Homo sapiens: one gene and its partners. The protein of the gene in region 4 purifies or fractionates together with the protein of the main gene of each other region. This does not show direct contact. Each region holds a gene or a part of one and is shown on either strand. Other genes may lie near its edges.

Region 1 (3,500 bases), on a different chromosome or scaffold from region 4:
CATGGTGCTTGCCTCAGACTCAGCCCATCATTTGCAGCAGCTGGTGCATTCACTTTCCTATTACAGTACCACTCAAGATCTGTCAGACCTGACCTGTCACCCACATTGTGGCCTGTGACAATCACGGCAATATCGCAGGCCACTTCGAATCTGTCTATTCCACTTTGCCTGTGTCCAGACCCACAATCACCTTACTTTGTAGTTTGTTTGGATCTCCAGATAACCTAGCTTTGCATCCCAGGCCTGCTACACAATGCCCTTTCTGTGAACAAAGTACACCTTCTAGGAGATTACTGGCATACTCTGGGTAAAAAATTGTAGCTCTTCAGAAACAATTCCCACACATAATAGCTCACATGAGTTTTAATACCTTATTGCTACAATCTTTACCATTCCAAAATGATTTTAAATGACTTAAAAAAAAATTTTTTTTGAGACGGAGTTTCACTCTTGTTGCCCAAGCTGGAGTGCAAGGGTGCGATCTCAGCTCACTGCAACCTCTGCCTCCCGGGTTCAAGCAATTCTCCTGCCTCAGCCTCCCAAGTAGCTGGGATTACAGGTGTGCGCCACCACACCTGGCTAATTTTTTTTTATTTTTAGTAGAAACGGGGTTTCACCATGTTAGGCTGGTCTCAGACTCCTGACCTCAGATGATCCACCTGCCTCAGTCTCCCAAAGTGCTGGGATTACAGGCGTGAATCACCGTGCCTGGCTTTTGCTACATTTTCTTGACTCACACTGGGACAGGTGAAGAAGTTAATTCTGGAGTGACTTCTGGGTTTCAGGGAATCCAGCAATCTCTAGAAATTATGCAACTATTTAGGCATATGCATGTTCTCCTGGGAAAGCAGGTATTGAGATTCTCATCCTTAAACAGCTAAGAACCAGAGATCAATACACTGATGATGCCAAAATAATGATCATGACCCCAGATTTAGGTACTCAACCTTTTTTTCCAACTGACTACAAATTTGGCATGTCCAAAATGAAACTCATTTTCCTACTTACTCCCCTAACAAATTCCTCTCCTAATTCTCACCGTCTCAGAAGATGATACCACCTGGCCAAAAAGGCATAAATCCTGTGAATCATGCTTTATCATAATGATCATCATGACTCTTTCCTTTTCCTTAGTCTCCCTTATCCCATCAATCACCATTAGCTTTCTGAAAGCCTAAGAAATTCTTAAAAACACCCCTAAGGCAAAAGAAGCATGTGTTCGATAATTACTTTCCAGGTGGTAAAGACCTCCCAATATTAATAGATCTTATAGGTTGAAAACTCCCCATTGGACCACAACTTTTTATTTTTAATATAAAGCCTTACACTGTTTCATCATTCCTCCTTCCTCTAATACCTACATTATGAATATGCTAGAAAATGTAACTCTTCATTCCTCTGAAATTAGGGAATGTGGTCAAAACAGTTTTTTTTTTTTTTTTCAACAAAATGACAAGTGGTGGGGCAGGGGGCTATTTCTGTAAAACTGCTCTTATTTGCAATACCTTTAATTTCTATCTCAACAGTCCCAGGGATCATAGCACTACTGTTCAGTGAAGGCAGCTGCTCTCCAATTTCTAGAGGATAATAGGAGCTTTGTTTTTTTTCATGTAATACCGTCTCTTTACCCAGAAGCCAACAGGACAGATGGTACTGCAAAACAAATGCCAAATCAGAATTGAAAAACATACAAGTCAGAATCACTGACATTCCTGTCTGCTGACAGTAAGTATTTTAAAATTTAGCGAAAATAGGAGGTGATAAGAAGGCTAGGTCTCAAAAGTAAAATCTGAAGACCCTACATAAATGTGTTTCTGATTCTTTGCAGAGTTTAAAAGACTTCCTGAACATGCACTATCTTAGTCTTTCCTTAAATACACAGCAAGATGTCCAGAAACATACAATGAGCACCTCTCATTTTTCACACACTGCCATTAAAGATTAGAAAGTTCACATTGATTCATTGATGAATTTATTTTTATTTTTTTGAGATAGTTTCTTTTTTTTTTTTTTTTTGAGACGGAGTCTCGCTCTGTCGCCCAGGCCGGACTGCGGACTGCAGTGGCGCAATCTCGGCTCACTGCAAGCTCCACTTCCCGGGTTCACGCCATTCTCCTGCCTCAGCCTCCCGAGTAGCTGGGACTACAGGCGCCTGCAACCATGCCTGGCTAATTTTTTTGTATTTTTTAGTAGAGACGGGGTTTCACCATGTTGGTCAGGCTGATCTCGAACTCCTGATCTCAGGTGATCCACCTGCCCAAGCCTCCCAAAATGCTAGGATTACAGGTGTGAGCCACTGCACCTGGCGATTTACTGATGAATTTATTTTAGGACCACCTACTGACATACCCTGTACTTATTAGTGCTTTGTAAACTAATGGCAAACTTTAAAATGTGCTGTACAGATTTTATTTTGCATTTATTACTAAAAACCTAGGGAGGCCAAATTTATGTTTACAGGATAGTGGGTTCGACTTCACAGCAATTTTTTTTCCTAATTATTGCCAGTTATGGATGTAAGAGAATAAATCATTAAGTAGCTATAGGCAAGGCCAACAATATGCTTATAACTGTAGAGAACAGAACAAAATGAAGGAATATCCAGATTTGGAATACCCTATACAGTTCTAACAGCTATTTTTCAAAAAAAAAAAAATAATGACAGCTGGGCACGGTGGCTCACGCCTGTAATCCCAGCACTTTGGGAGGCCAAGGTGGGCAGATCACGAGGTCAGGAGATCGAGACCATCCTGGCTAACACAGTGAAACCCCTTCTCTACTAAAAATACAAAAAAATTAGCTGGGTGTGGTGGCAGGTGCCTGTAGTCCCAGCTACTCGGGAGGCTGAGGCAGGAGAATGGTGTGAACCTGGGAGGCGGAGGTTGCAGTGACCCGAGATCGCGCCACTGCACTCCAGCCTGGGCGACAGAGACTCCGTCTCAAAAAAAAAAAAAAAAAAGCTGGGCGCAGTGGCTTACGCCTGTAATCCCAGCATTTTGGGAGGCCGCGGCGGGCGGATCACGAGGTCAGGAGATCGAGACCATACTGGCTAACACAGTGAAACCCTGTCTCTACTAAAAAATACAAAAAATTAGCCGGGCGTGGCAGTGGGTGCCTGTAGTCCCAGCTACTCGGGAGGCTGAGGCAGGAGAATGGCATGAACCCAGGAGGCGGAGGTTGCAGTGAGCTGAGGTCGCGCCACTGCACTCCAGCCTGGGAGACAGAGCGAGACGCCGTCTCAAAAAAAAAAAAAAGACGTAATGCCACTGGGAAAGGACTGTAAAGAAGACAATTAAAAATCAACAAGTGCCCAGCTGTTTATAATAGCCTACAAAGTGATTCAAAGACAATTTGTTACCTTACCTCTCTACCATTACAAAGTGACCAAAATTAAATGCAACCATCCTTTTAACAGGGTCTTTCACAGAGCGTAAGTTTTCATTTTGGTAAAGTCCAATTTATCAATTTTTTAATAAGTAATGCATTTGGTGTTATGTCTA
Region 2 (3,500 bases), on a different chromosome or scaffold from region 4:
TTACACACCCACACTAAAGGAAAAAATTCCACGTGCGGAGAAACAACAAGAATTTTCAGATTAAATGTTTACTATAGGCCGGGCGCAGTGGCTCACACCTGTAATCCCAGCACTTTGGGAGGCCGAGGCGGGTGGATCACGAGGTCAGATCAAGACCATCCTGGCTAACATTATGAAACCCCGTCTCTATTAAAAATACAAAAAATTAGCTGGGTGTGGTGGTGGGTGCCTGTAGTCCCAGCTACTTGGGAGGCTGAGGCAAGAGAATGGCGTGAACCCAGGAGGTGGAGCTTGCAGTGAGCCGAGATCACACTACTGCACTCCAGCCTGGACGACAGAGCAAGACTCCATCTCAAAAAAAAAAAAAAAAAAAAAATTTACTATACTATGTAAAAATATATATAAGCTAAGCTATACAGAAGAGAAACTAAAAATATCTCTATGTGTATACAATGTCTATATAAAAATATTACAGGCCGGGGGCAGTGGCTCACACCTGTAATCCCAGCACTTTGGGAGGCCGAGGCGGGTGGATCATGAGGTCAGGAGGTCGAGACCACCCTGGCTAACACAGTGAAACCCCATCTCTACTAAAAATACAAAAGATTTGCCAGGCGTGGTGGCAGGCGCCTGCAGTCCCAGCTACTCGGGAGGCTGAGGCAGAAGAATGGTGTGAACCCGGGAGGCGGAGCTTGCAGTGAGCCGAGATCGCACCACTGCACTCCAGCTTGGGCGACAGAGCGAGACTCCGTCTCAAAAAAAAAAAAAAAAAAATTACAAATCCACTTTCTTTAAAACATTGAAACTGAACTCCTGTAAAAATACACATTCATGTATTTGAAGTGACTTTCAGTCAAGTAAAGATTAATATTTAAAATAGGCTGGGCATGGTGGCTCACACCTATAATCGCAGCACTTTGGGAGGCTGAGGTTGGAGGATTACTTGAGCCCACATGTTTGAGACCAGCCTGGGCAACATAGCAAGACCTTGTCTCTACAGAAAAAAAAAAAAAACAAAAAAAACTAGCCAGGGGATAGTGGTGTGCGCCTATATTCCCAGCTACTCGGGAGGCTGAGGTGGGAGGATTGCTTGAGCCCAGGAGTCTGAAGCTGCAGTGAGCCGTGATCATGCCACTGTATTCCAGCTTAGGTGACGGAGCAAGACTCAGTCTCTCTTTTCGCTCTCTCTCCATATATATATTTAAATTTTAATTTTAAAAGCACACACTTTACATCATAAAGGCCAGAGCTTACCTTTCATATGGAATTCTCTTCATTCCACTGTCTTTGAAATAATCTACTAGTTGTTTCTGAGTTCTTCCACTGTGAATAAAGATTCAGATTTTTAATAAAGAACAGTAAGTCAGCATTAATTTTTCAGAGTAAAAGACAAAAGAAAAGATTTACCCATCCTCTCTCATAAATATACACACATATATTTTATTTTTTGAGACTGAGTCTCGCTCTATTGCCCAGGGTGGAGTGCAGTGGCGTGATCTCTGCCTCATGGGTTTAAGCGATTCTCATGCCTCAGCCTCCCGAGTAGCTGGGATTACAGGTGCCCGCTAACACGCCCAGCTAATTTTTGTATTTTTAGTAGAGATGGGGTTTCACCATGTTGGCCAGGCTGATATCGAATTCCTGACCTCAAATGATCCACCCGCCTTGGCCTTCCAAAGTGCTGGGATTACAGGTGTGAGCCACCGGGCTCGGCCCACATACATATTTTAAAGTTATACTTTGTAGTAAGCGTAACTGAATTTGTAAGCAAAGTTTTTATTAAGCGTATTTTTTCCGTTATTTTATTTCATATGCTTCCTCTAGTTATTCTTTCACAATACCTCCACTTTGTGTGTAATTCTCTGAAATATTTTATAACACTTCTTTCTTGACTAGGAATTACCTATTTTCTCAGCTTTACAAACCAGTGAGGGGCCCATGCAAGCCACGGCATGGCCCCTACCTGTATCTGAAGGAGGAGCCCCGGCTGAAGAAGACGGCTTTTGCTTTTGGCTTAGGTTGGTCCAAAAGTCTAAAAAAGGTGTGATACTCCACACAAATCTTCCAGAAGTTCTTACATTCATCTCTACTACCCAACAAAAATTCTAATGTGTCCTGGTAAGGTCCCTAGAAACAAAACACAAAGGTTAATTAATTCAAGAATGAAGTATTGGACAAGAGAAAGTACATTTAGGAAGCAGATCACACGATAGGGAATTCCAAAATTAAAAATCAGTAAGGTTTTTTTTTGAGACAGGATCTTGCTCTGTGCCCAGGCTGGAGTGCAATGGCGTGATCTTGGCTCACTGCAACTTCAACCTCCCAGGCTCAAACAATCCTCCCACCTCAGCCGCTCCCCTCCTACTGCTCAGTAGGGACTACAGGCTCACAACACCAAGCCCAGCTGATTTTTGTATTTTTTGTAGAAAAAGGGTTTTGCCATGTTGGCCAGGCTGGTCTTGAACTCCTGAGCCCAAGTGATCTGCCCATCTCAGCCTCCCAAGGTACTGGGATTACAGGTGTGCACCACTGCACCCAGCCCAGGAAGGGTTTTTCTAAAAGTTGTATACAAAGTCTTCTGGTTCCATCTGCTTAATTAAGAAAAGATAGACAGTATATATATTCATAGTAGAACTAGCAGAAAAATGAAGTCACCCACAATCACACAACTATCAACATTCTGAATTCTATCTTTGTAAACACTTTTTCTACCTAGCCTTGGCATTTTTCATGCCAACTGACATATTTACATGTTATTACTGAATTGTTTCTACATGGTATATATTTTTAAAATCTAGGATATTTTAGATGTCCAGGACATGCAGTTTTCAGGCCTACAAATATTGCCCTGAAGGAACTGCATTCACTCTCAGTTATTCCTTAGGATAAATTCCTAGAAATGGAAATCTGAGCTCAAAGACTGCACATTTTTGAACCTGCTGATGTATGTTACCCAATTACCTTCCACAAAGACTGTAATACTTTGAATCTAACATTTAGTCTTTAAAACGTGCTTAGGTAAGTAAAATGTAACTTTGCTAAGTGCAGATGCAAACAGTTCTGGGCTTTGACTTATCGCCCTATTCAAGTTAATAGCTGCTTTGGTGAACTTTCCCTATCATCTCGAATAACTGCAGGAAACTTTTTTTTTTTTTACTTACAGAGTAAAACAGCTTTTACTTGTGTTTCGTATGTGTGTTTGGCATTCCTTCTACTTCCCCTTCATCCACAGGACAGATATTTGTACAACAATTAAAGCCACTTTCAAGCCTTCTACCAAAAGCAAACACACTTACACAAAGCACGTGAACCCAGTGTGTACCAAAAGCCCTACTACTCAAGTGCCTTTTAAAGGCGTAGGCAAAGCTTTTCTTCTGACTGGCCCAAAGGCTCTAAATCTCCCATAACCCAAAATGTGTCTGGGCTGACACAGGCATGGCCATCTCTTAAGCTTCAAACCCCATGGTAGCTTGGCAAATCTACTTTTTATTTTCTAACTC
Region 3 (3,500 bases), on a different chromosome or scaffold from region 4:
GGAGTTTGAGGCAGCAGTGAGCCATGATTGCACCATGCACTCCAGCCCAGGCCAAAAAGCAAGACCTCATCTGAAAAAAAAAAAAAAAAAAAAGGAACAGAAAACACGAGAAGACACTAAAATGAGAGACTAAGGGTGAAGGAGAGCTTCTGCTGTTACTGTAGTTTATTTTGCTTTCAAGATGGGCGGCCCCGGAATGGTGAGCCATGTCAGTGGAAGACACTGCAATGGTGGGAATCGTCTATATCTGCACTGTTCAATCCAGTAACCACTAACCACATGTGGCTAGTGAGCACTTGATATGAGAAACTGAATTTTAAGTTTTATTAGCTGAAATTTAAATTGCCATATATAGCTAGCAGCTACAAAACCAGGCAGGGCAGCCCCTCCAGCATGTCTGTAGACTGACGGACCCAGCTGTCCAAAATTTAGATGGGATGGTGGGAAGAGTGGAAGCTGACGGCTTCTATTTGTTCAATGCTTTCTAAATGAGGTTATATGCTGAGGGAAGGACGGGGTGGGGGAAGTGGGGGACAGGACACTAGGTGAAGTTCAAGGAGAAGTGAAAAGGAAGAAATGACTTCAGAGAGTGGAGAACATATTAAAGGAGGCAGTAACACTTCCGGGTCGAGTGTCATTTGAGATTTGTGGCAAATTTTAAAGTAACCCTGGTCAGAACTGCTGGCTTTTCTCTGGCAAACATCAACCACTTGGCCCTTCAAAGGTGGCCTCAAACTACTCTTTCAACCATCTCCTGACACTCCCTTTATGTTCCTCTGTGGTTTTCAATTTTCTTGGCTGCAGGATCTTTTTTACCCCCTTTACGTATTATATTCAGTACCCCAGTTAAAAAAAAAAAAAAAAAAAAAAAAAAAAAAAAAAAAGGACAGAGAGATGACAATGAGGACAAAAACAAGGCTGTTCTGGAGGAAACTGAGGTAGGCCTAAATTCCCCCACCAGCTTGGCCCCCTCCCACCAGCCCCTGAGGCACATCTAAGGAATCTCAGGGCTTGAAACCAAAGATTTACCCTGATGGGTGTTTCTCAGACTTAAATATGCTGACGATCAACATGTCTTGTTAAAATGTACATTCTGCTCCAGCAGGTCTGCAGAGGCCCAAGCTCTGCATTTCTAACATGTTACTGGGTTCTGCCACTGTGGCCACACCCAAAGCCAACTACTCACATTCTCCGCTCTGCTTGGTTTTGCCCGCTGTCGGACCCTCAGCTGCATATGCCTTTCCCCATTGTATTAGTCTGTTCTCACGCTGCTGTGAAGAAATACCCAAGACTGGGTAATTTATAAAGGAAAGAGGTTTAACTGACTCAGTTCTGCAGGGCTGGGGAGACCTCAAGAAACTTACGATCATGGCAGAAGGGGAAGCAAACACATCCTTCTTCACATGGCAGCAGCAAGCAGAAGAATGAACACCCAGCAAAAGGAGAAGCTCCTTATTTAAAATCATTAGGTCTCGTGAGAACTAACTATCACGAGAATACGATGGGGAAAACTGCCCCCATGATTCAATTATCTCCAGCTGATCCACCCACAACACCTGGGGATTATGGGTACAATTCAAGATTAGATTTGAGTGGGGACACAGCCAAACCATATCACCCATCTTCTGCAGCTGGGAGATTCTATCTAATCCTCAAGGTCCTCCTCATTGTTACCTCCTCTCAAGGATTCTCCAAGTCCCCCAGGCAGAAGTAATCATGATCCAGTCCTGGTTAGCACCTTGGCAGATCTCCTACCACTATATCCCCCTCTTGCTGTGCTCCAGCCATGCCAGCTTTCCTGCAGTTGCCATAACAAGCCAAGCAAACACCAGCCTCACGGCCTTTGCACCAGCTGACCCCTCCGCCTGAAATGCTCTTCTCCCAAACTGCCTCATGTCTAAGCCCTTCACCGACGTCATGCCTTTGCTCAATGTTCTGCACGGTCTATTTAATACCTTCCACCCCTAGCATTCTGGACACTGTAGTTATTTACACATATATTTATTTTACGTCTGTGTCCCCTGTAGTTATGCACAATTTGAGAGCAAGGTCCACAATATATTCATTTTGCATCTGAAGCATCTTGCAGTGTCTCCATATTTAAAGACAAGGTGAAATATCAAGTCAATAGCTGACATAACTTGCAACTAATGGATGTGAATTAGATTTCTGACACTTCAAAGAACCTAATCGCTAGTGGAAGTGTGAAAAATACAAGAAAGAACATAACAAAATAGATACAGAAAGCAAAGCAAGGGCACAAGGGTAATTCTAAAATGATAATTCATAACTCAAAAATACACAAGGATGCCAAGAACAACGATGATGTTCTACTACAAAACAGGATAAAGTAACCATTGATTTAGCATACAATCTGATAATTTGCTACCTCTTAGCATTTAAGATATTAAAAAAAAAAATAGGATAGGCATGGTGGCTCAAGGCTCTATTTCCAGCACTTTGGGAGGCTGAGGTGAGAGGATTGCTTGAGGTCAGAAGTTTGAGACCAGCCTGGCCAATACAGCAAGACCCTGTCTCTATTTTAAAGGATAGTAATAATGACAGCTAGCACATTAAGAACTTACCATGTGCCAGCAACTATTTAGGCATCTTACAAGTATGAATTGATTTAATCCATATAACAAACTTCCAAAGTAGGTACCATTATTACCTCCTTTTATAATCAAGGAACTGAGAGGCAAAATAACTTGTTCAAGGTCACATAGCCAACCGAACAAGGACTCCAGAGCTCTTAATCACTGTGCCCAGGTAGCTGAAAAACTATAAAGATTTAGAATTGTGAGGCTTAGCTTTAGGTAAGTTACTGTTTTAAAACTCCCTACAACATTTTTCTTAAATAAATTATGTACTGGTTCTCTCCCTACATGCTCTGAACATTAACAATGATTTTCTTTCTATGAAGGGAAAAACTGGTTTTCAAGTAGTTTTCTCCCATGTTAACAGCTAATACTCTGTCCATCCAAGAAGAACAGCTCTTAAGACTAAGAAAATAAAAGAACTCAAAGAAATGAATGATTCCTGAGCTTGGCCCAGGCAGCACAGCTCAGTGGTTAACGGTACCGTTGTGAATCCCAAGTACTAGGCACTGTGACCCAGGCGGGTAATCAATTCAGCCTATGCGTGTTCCCCCCCAAGAATTCTTCCTGGCTGCTGCGTGCTCTCCCCACTTTCTCACCCCACACTATCCCCATCTTATTCTTGCAAGGGTTCTTGATGGGGTTCCATGAACTCCCAAGTGGTCCATGGATAGAATTAAAAGGATCCTTGAACTTGCTAGGACATATCCTCTGTATTTTCATTTATTCCTTTAAAAGCCTCATTCTGAGGAGTCTATGGCCTTCACTGGACTGCCATAGGAGTTCCTAGTACAAAAAAGAAAAGAAATGAGGATAAAGGCAGACACAGGGAAATAAGCTAGGGGGGTTTAATATCAGTCTAGGAAAGAGGGAAACAAATCTGGTTAGGAGTGACAGAAGTGA
Region 4 (3,500 bases):
GGGGGCAGGGGTCGGAGAATGGCAGGGAGGTGGGAAGTCTGGGAAGTGTGAGGCCTGGAGCAGGCTCTGGGTGTTGAGAGGGTTGGAAGGAAGAACACGGAGCAAGATGGGACTGGTGTGGGGGGCGTGGCCAGGGCACCCGGGGTGGCTTCGGATGGAAGAGGTGTGGCATAGGCTGGAGTAGATTTGGTTTGCAATAAAAGGGGTGGGGCCTGACTGCAGAGGATGAAGGGTGACCGGCTGGAGAAGAGGAAGAGGAACTTGGGGTCAAGCAGAGACAAGTTGAGGTAGGGGACCAGCCCTGTATTGACAGGGTGGAACCAGGGTTCATGAGGCGGGTGTAGTTTGGGATGGAAACCAGGCCTGGACTGGTGTGGGGAAGGAGGATGAGCTGAGAAATGGGCGGGGCCCAGGGATACAGCAGGTGAAGGGCCTGGGCTAGTCAAGAAGGAAGGGCCAGGGCTGAGGCAGGGGCAAGGACATAGGGGTGACTGGGCTGTGGCTGGGTGTGGCTAGAGGGTTAGCTCACCTGGCGCTAACTCTGTGCTGGTGCCTTTGGTGGTGGTCTCTGATGCCCCCTTCACAGCAGAGAAAGAGGCTGTGGAGGCTGCAAGTGGGGCTGTGACAGGGCCGGCACTCCAGCTGCGGCGGCTCGGCCCTGGAGCTGTGGGCTCGGACCCAAGGCTGCAGGCTCGAGAGCAGAAGATTAGGCCTCGGCGTGGCAGGAATGGGCGGCCCAGCAGGGCCCGCCCACAGCGACTACAGCAGAAGCAGCGGTCTGAGGCATGCCAGTGCTGGCCCTCGTAAGCCATCTGGCCTTGGTCCAGGCCTGTGGGGAACGACGAGGGGGAAAAACTGAGGCAGAACCCCCAGGCGTAACCCCACCCCTCGTGAACGAGTCCCTTCTCAAGAAGAGGTGGGGAATCCGAGGCAGGGCACCCCTGGGTGCCTTCCTCCCTCCTCCAGAATGGGGCCCTTTTGGAGAAAGCAGGAAACAGGTTTTGGTTCTCTCCTGGAGACTGGCTGGTGAACCTCTCTCTCACTCCTCCCTTTCTTTCCCAGGGTGCTCTCTCCCAGAGCGGGGTGGGCATTGGACTCTAAGATTCGGGCCAGGCTTAGACATTAGGGGGTGGCTCCAAGTGGAAGGAGAATGGAAAGCTGGGCCTGAAGAGGAGGCCTGGCTGGTGGGGGCAGGGCTTAGCAGGTGGGGAGTGGCCCTGTTGAGAAAGGAGTGGTTCTCAGAGGATAGGGTGTAGCTAGAAGCTAGGCCTGACTTAGGCTGATACAGGAGAGTGGAGGAGAACGGGGCACAGCTTGGGGTGGTAGAGGCTAGGAGTAGGGCGAGCCCTGGGGCTGGAATTAGAGCACCCTCTGGAGGTGGGTGTAGACATGTGGTGGTGGCCTAGCATTGTGTTAGGTGGGGTTTAGAAAGCATGGCATAGTGGGGACATTGGGAGTGGGACTTGCAACCAAGCGTACAGGTCTATAGTGTTGGGGCTGGACAAAGTACAGGGCACAATGGAGGATGGGGCCTGGAGGACAGGAGGAGTCCTGGTGGGGTAGGACTGTGGCCCAGCTGTCCATCCATCCCTCTGTCCAGTCCCACAGCATTCACCCACCGATGTGCTCCCCACAGCCATCACAGTACTCCGCGTGGCGGGCCTCGTAGCAGGCGCAGCAGTGGGGGCGGCTCTGACGCATGACATAGCGCTGCCCTCCTAGTGAAGCTTCACACTCAAAGCAGCAGAAGTGATCCATGTGCCAGTGGCGGCCCTCAGCCTCCGTGCACTCAGGGGAGAAGATGATCTGGAGGGCGCAGGCCATCTGTGGCTGTCAGATGAGCCTGCTCCTGGCCCTGCCCACCCTCAACTCCCACCCCTGGGCAGGGAGGCCCAAACCTCGTCACAGGCTTGGCAGCGTGGACGCAGGCATTCGGCATGGTGACGCCCGCAGTAGACCTTGCCAACATGGTAGAAGTAGATGAGGTCAACCAGCAGTTCCTGGCACGTGGTACACACGAAGCACTGTGGGTGCCAGCAGGCACCCAGGCCTGCACGGCTGGCAAACACTGCGATGTCCCCACCTCCAATCTGCTTTCCGCACTGCCATGAGACAAGCACCAAGATGGTTACCATCACTGTCACCAAGATGGTCAGATGGATGGGGTCAGCCAAAGTATGTTACACTTGGGCCTTTCCCACAGTGAAACTTTGTGATCAGCCCCACCCATGGGGTAACTTTGACACAGGCCCTGCCTATACCAGGGATGGGGTTGGGCGGTACCTTAGAGACTGACCCTGCTCATGAGGGAAGCCGTAGAGACAGGCCCTACCCATGGTGGGTGGCCTTATAGGCAAGCCTCCCTCATCAGGGGTGGGGAAGACAGACAGGCCAGGCCTAGTGGGGGAAACCACAGAGATAGTCTCCACCCACCGGGACCTTAGCAATAGATCTCACCTAACAGTAGGATCTAAGGACAGGCCCTGCTTACCACTGGGCCCTGCAGACAGGCCCTGCCACTGTGGGTCAGCTCTTGAGGACAAGTTCTGACCACAGGAGGACCAAAGAGATAGCCCATGCCCCATGTCCACTGCACAGACGGGGAGAAAAACACACTAAGGCCTCCTTACAGACAAACCCCACACGACAGTGGGATTGATGGGACAGGTCCCTGTCCACCAGGGGTTGCCTTAGAGACAGTCCCTGCCCAACAGTGAGATGTGAGGAACAGACCCCGCCCACAAGAGGGGACCCTAGAGACACCTCACTGGGGCTTAAGTGGCAGGCCTCATCTTCCCAGTGCTTGGAAGATGTGTCCTGCTCCCCAGGGCTTGGAGCAGAGGCACTGCTCACTCGCTGAGGCCCTCCACGGCTCACCTCCTCACAGATGGCCCCAGTGATGGTCACCGGGAAGATGCGCACGATGCCACGCCCCAGATTCTCCCGCTTCCGCTGCTGGCTAAAGGCTCGGAGCTCTTTCTTTTCCTCCTCTTCCAGTGCTGTGCAGTACTGTGCCTGGGAGGAGAAGGCATCTCCCAGGCTCCTCCCTTGATGCCTGTCCCTGCCCCTCTTCCAGACTTCATCCATGCCCCGAAAGTTTACTTCTAGGTCTTTCTATAGATGGTGCCTCCTGCCTGAAGTAACCACCTCTTCTTCCAAGGCCCAGCTGTGGTTTTGCCAAGGAATGTCCCCTGATGACCCCTGCCTGTCTGGACCACTCACCTCAGATCAGCTCACCTTTCCTCCTCTGACCCTGCCCTGCATTGGCCCAGGCTGTGTGCTGTGCCTGGCATGCCCTTCCTGTCTTCTCTCTCCTCACCTCACTGTCGTGTGGGGGCAGCTGGTGCAGCAGCTGCTTGATCCTGTATTTCTCCCCAGGACTGTTGACGTAGGGGACCTTGTCCTCTGGGAGGCAGCTGAAAAATTGATATACCTGGGAGGACATAGGAGTGGGAGAAAACAACTGAAATGAGAGGTGAGTTGGGATGCAGTGAGATGGC

The links. The genes of interacting proteins can lie anywhere in the genome.
Region 1: the proteins of PRICKLE3 (region 4) and ARMC8 purify together in Homo sapiens (affinity purification with mass spectrometry; 2 studies listed by BioGRID and IntAct, with this or other methods). This does not show direct contact.
Region 2: the proteins of PRICKLE3 (region 4) and FARP2 purify together in Homo sapiens (affinity purification with mass spectrometry; 2 studies listed by BioGRID and IntAct, with this or other methods). This does not show direct contact.
Region 3: the proteins of PRICKLE3 (region 4) and PIP4K2A purify together in Homo sapiens (affinity purification with mass spectrometry; 2 studies listed by BioGRID and IntAct, with this or other methods). This does not show direct contact.

What each region holds. Positions count from the first base shown.
Region 1 is NC_000003.12:138,193,801-138,197,300, reverse strand, and holds part of ARMC8 (armadillo repeat-containing protein 8), read right to left. Parts: intron 1-3,500. UniProt on the Homo sapiens protein: Component of the CTLH E3 ubiquitin-protein ligase complex that selectively accepts ubiquitin from UBE2H and mediates ubiquitination and subsequent proteasomal degradation of the transcription factor HBP1.
Region 2 is NC_000002.12:241,432,785-241,436,284, reverse strand, and holds part of FARP2 (FERM, ARHGEF and pleckstrin domain-containing protein 2), read right to left. Parts: intron 2,128-3,500; coding exon 1,964-2,127; intron 1,324-1,963; coding exon 1,255-1,323; intron 1-1,254. UniProt on the Homo sapiens protein: Functions as a guanine nucleotide exchange factor that activates RAC1. May have relatively low activity. Plays a role in the response to class 3 semaphorins and remodeling of the actin cytoskeleton.
Region 3 is NC_000010.11:22,704,579-22,708,078, forward strand, and holds part of PIP4K2A (phosphatidylinositol 5-phosphate 4-kinase type-2 alpha), read right to left. Parts: intron 848-3,500; exon of another isoform or gene 1-847. UniProt on the Homo sapiens protein: Catalyzes the phosphorylation of phosphatidylinositol 5-phosphate (PtdIns5P) on the fourth hydroxyl of the myo-inositol ring, to form phosphatidylinositol 4,5-bisphosphate (PtdIns(4,5)P2). Has both ATP- and GTP-dependent kinase activities.
Region 4 is NC_000023.11:49,176,374-49,179,873, forward strand, and holds part of PRICKLE3 (prickle planar cell polarity protein 3), read right to left. Parts: intron 3,434-3,500; coding exon 3,320-3,433; intron 3,016-3,319; coding exon 2,878-3,015; intron 2,103-2,877; coding exon 1,899-2,102; intron 1,807-1,898; coding exon 1,620-1,806; intron 830-1,619; coding exon 530-829; intron 1-529. UniProt on the Homo sapiens protein: Involved in the planar cell polarity (PCP) pathway that is essential for the polarization of epithelial cells during morphogenetic processes, including gastrulation and neurulation.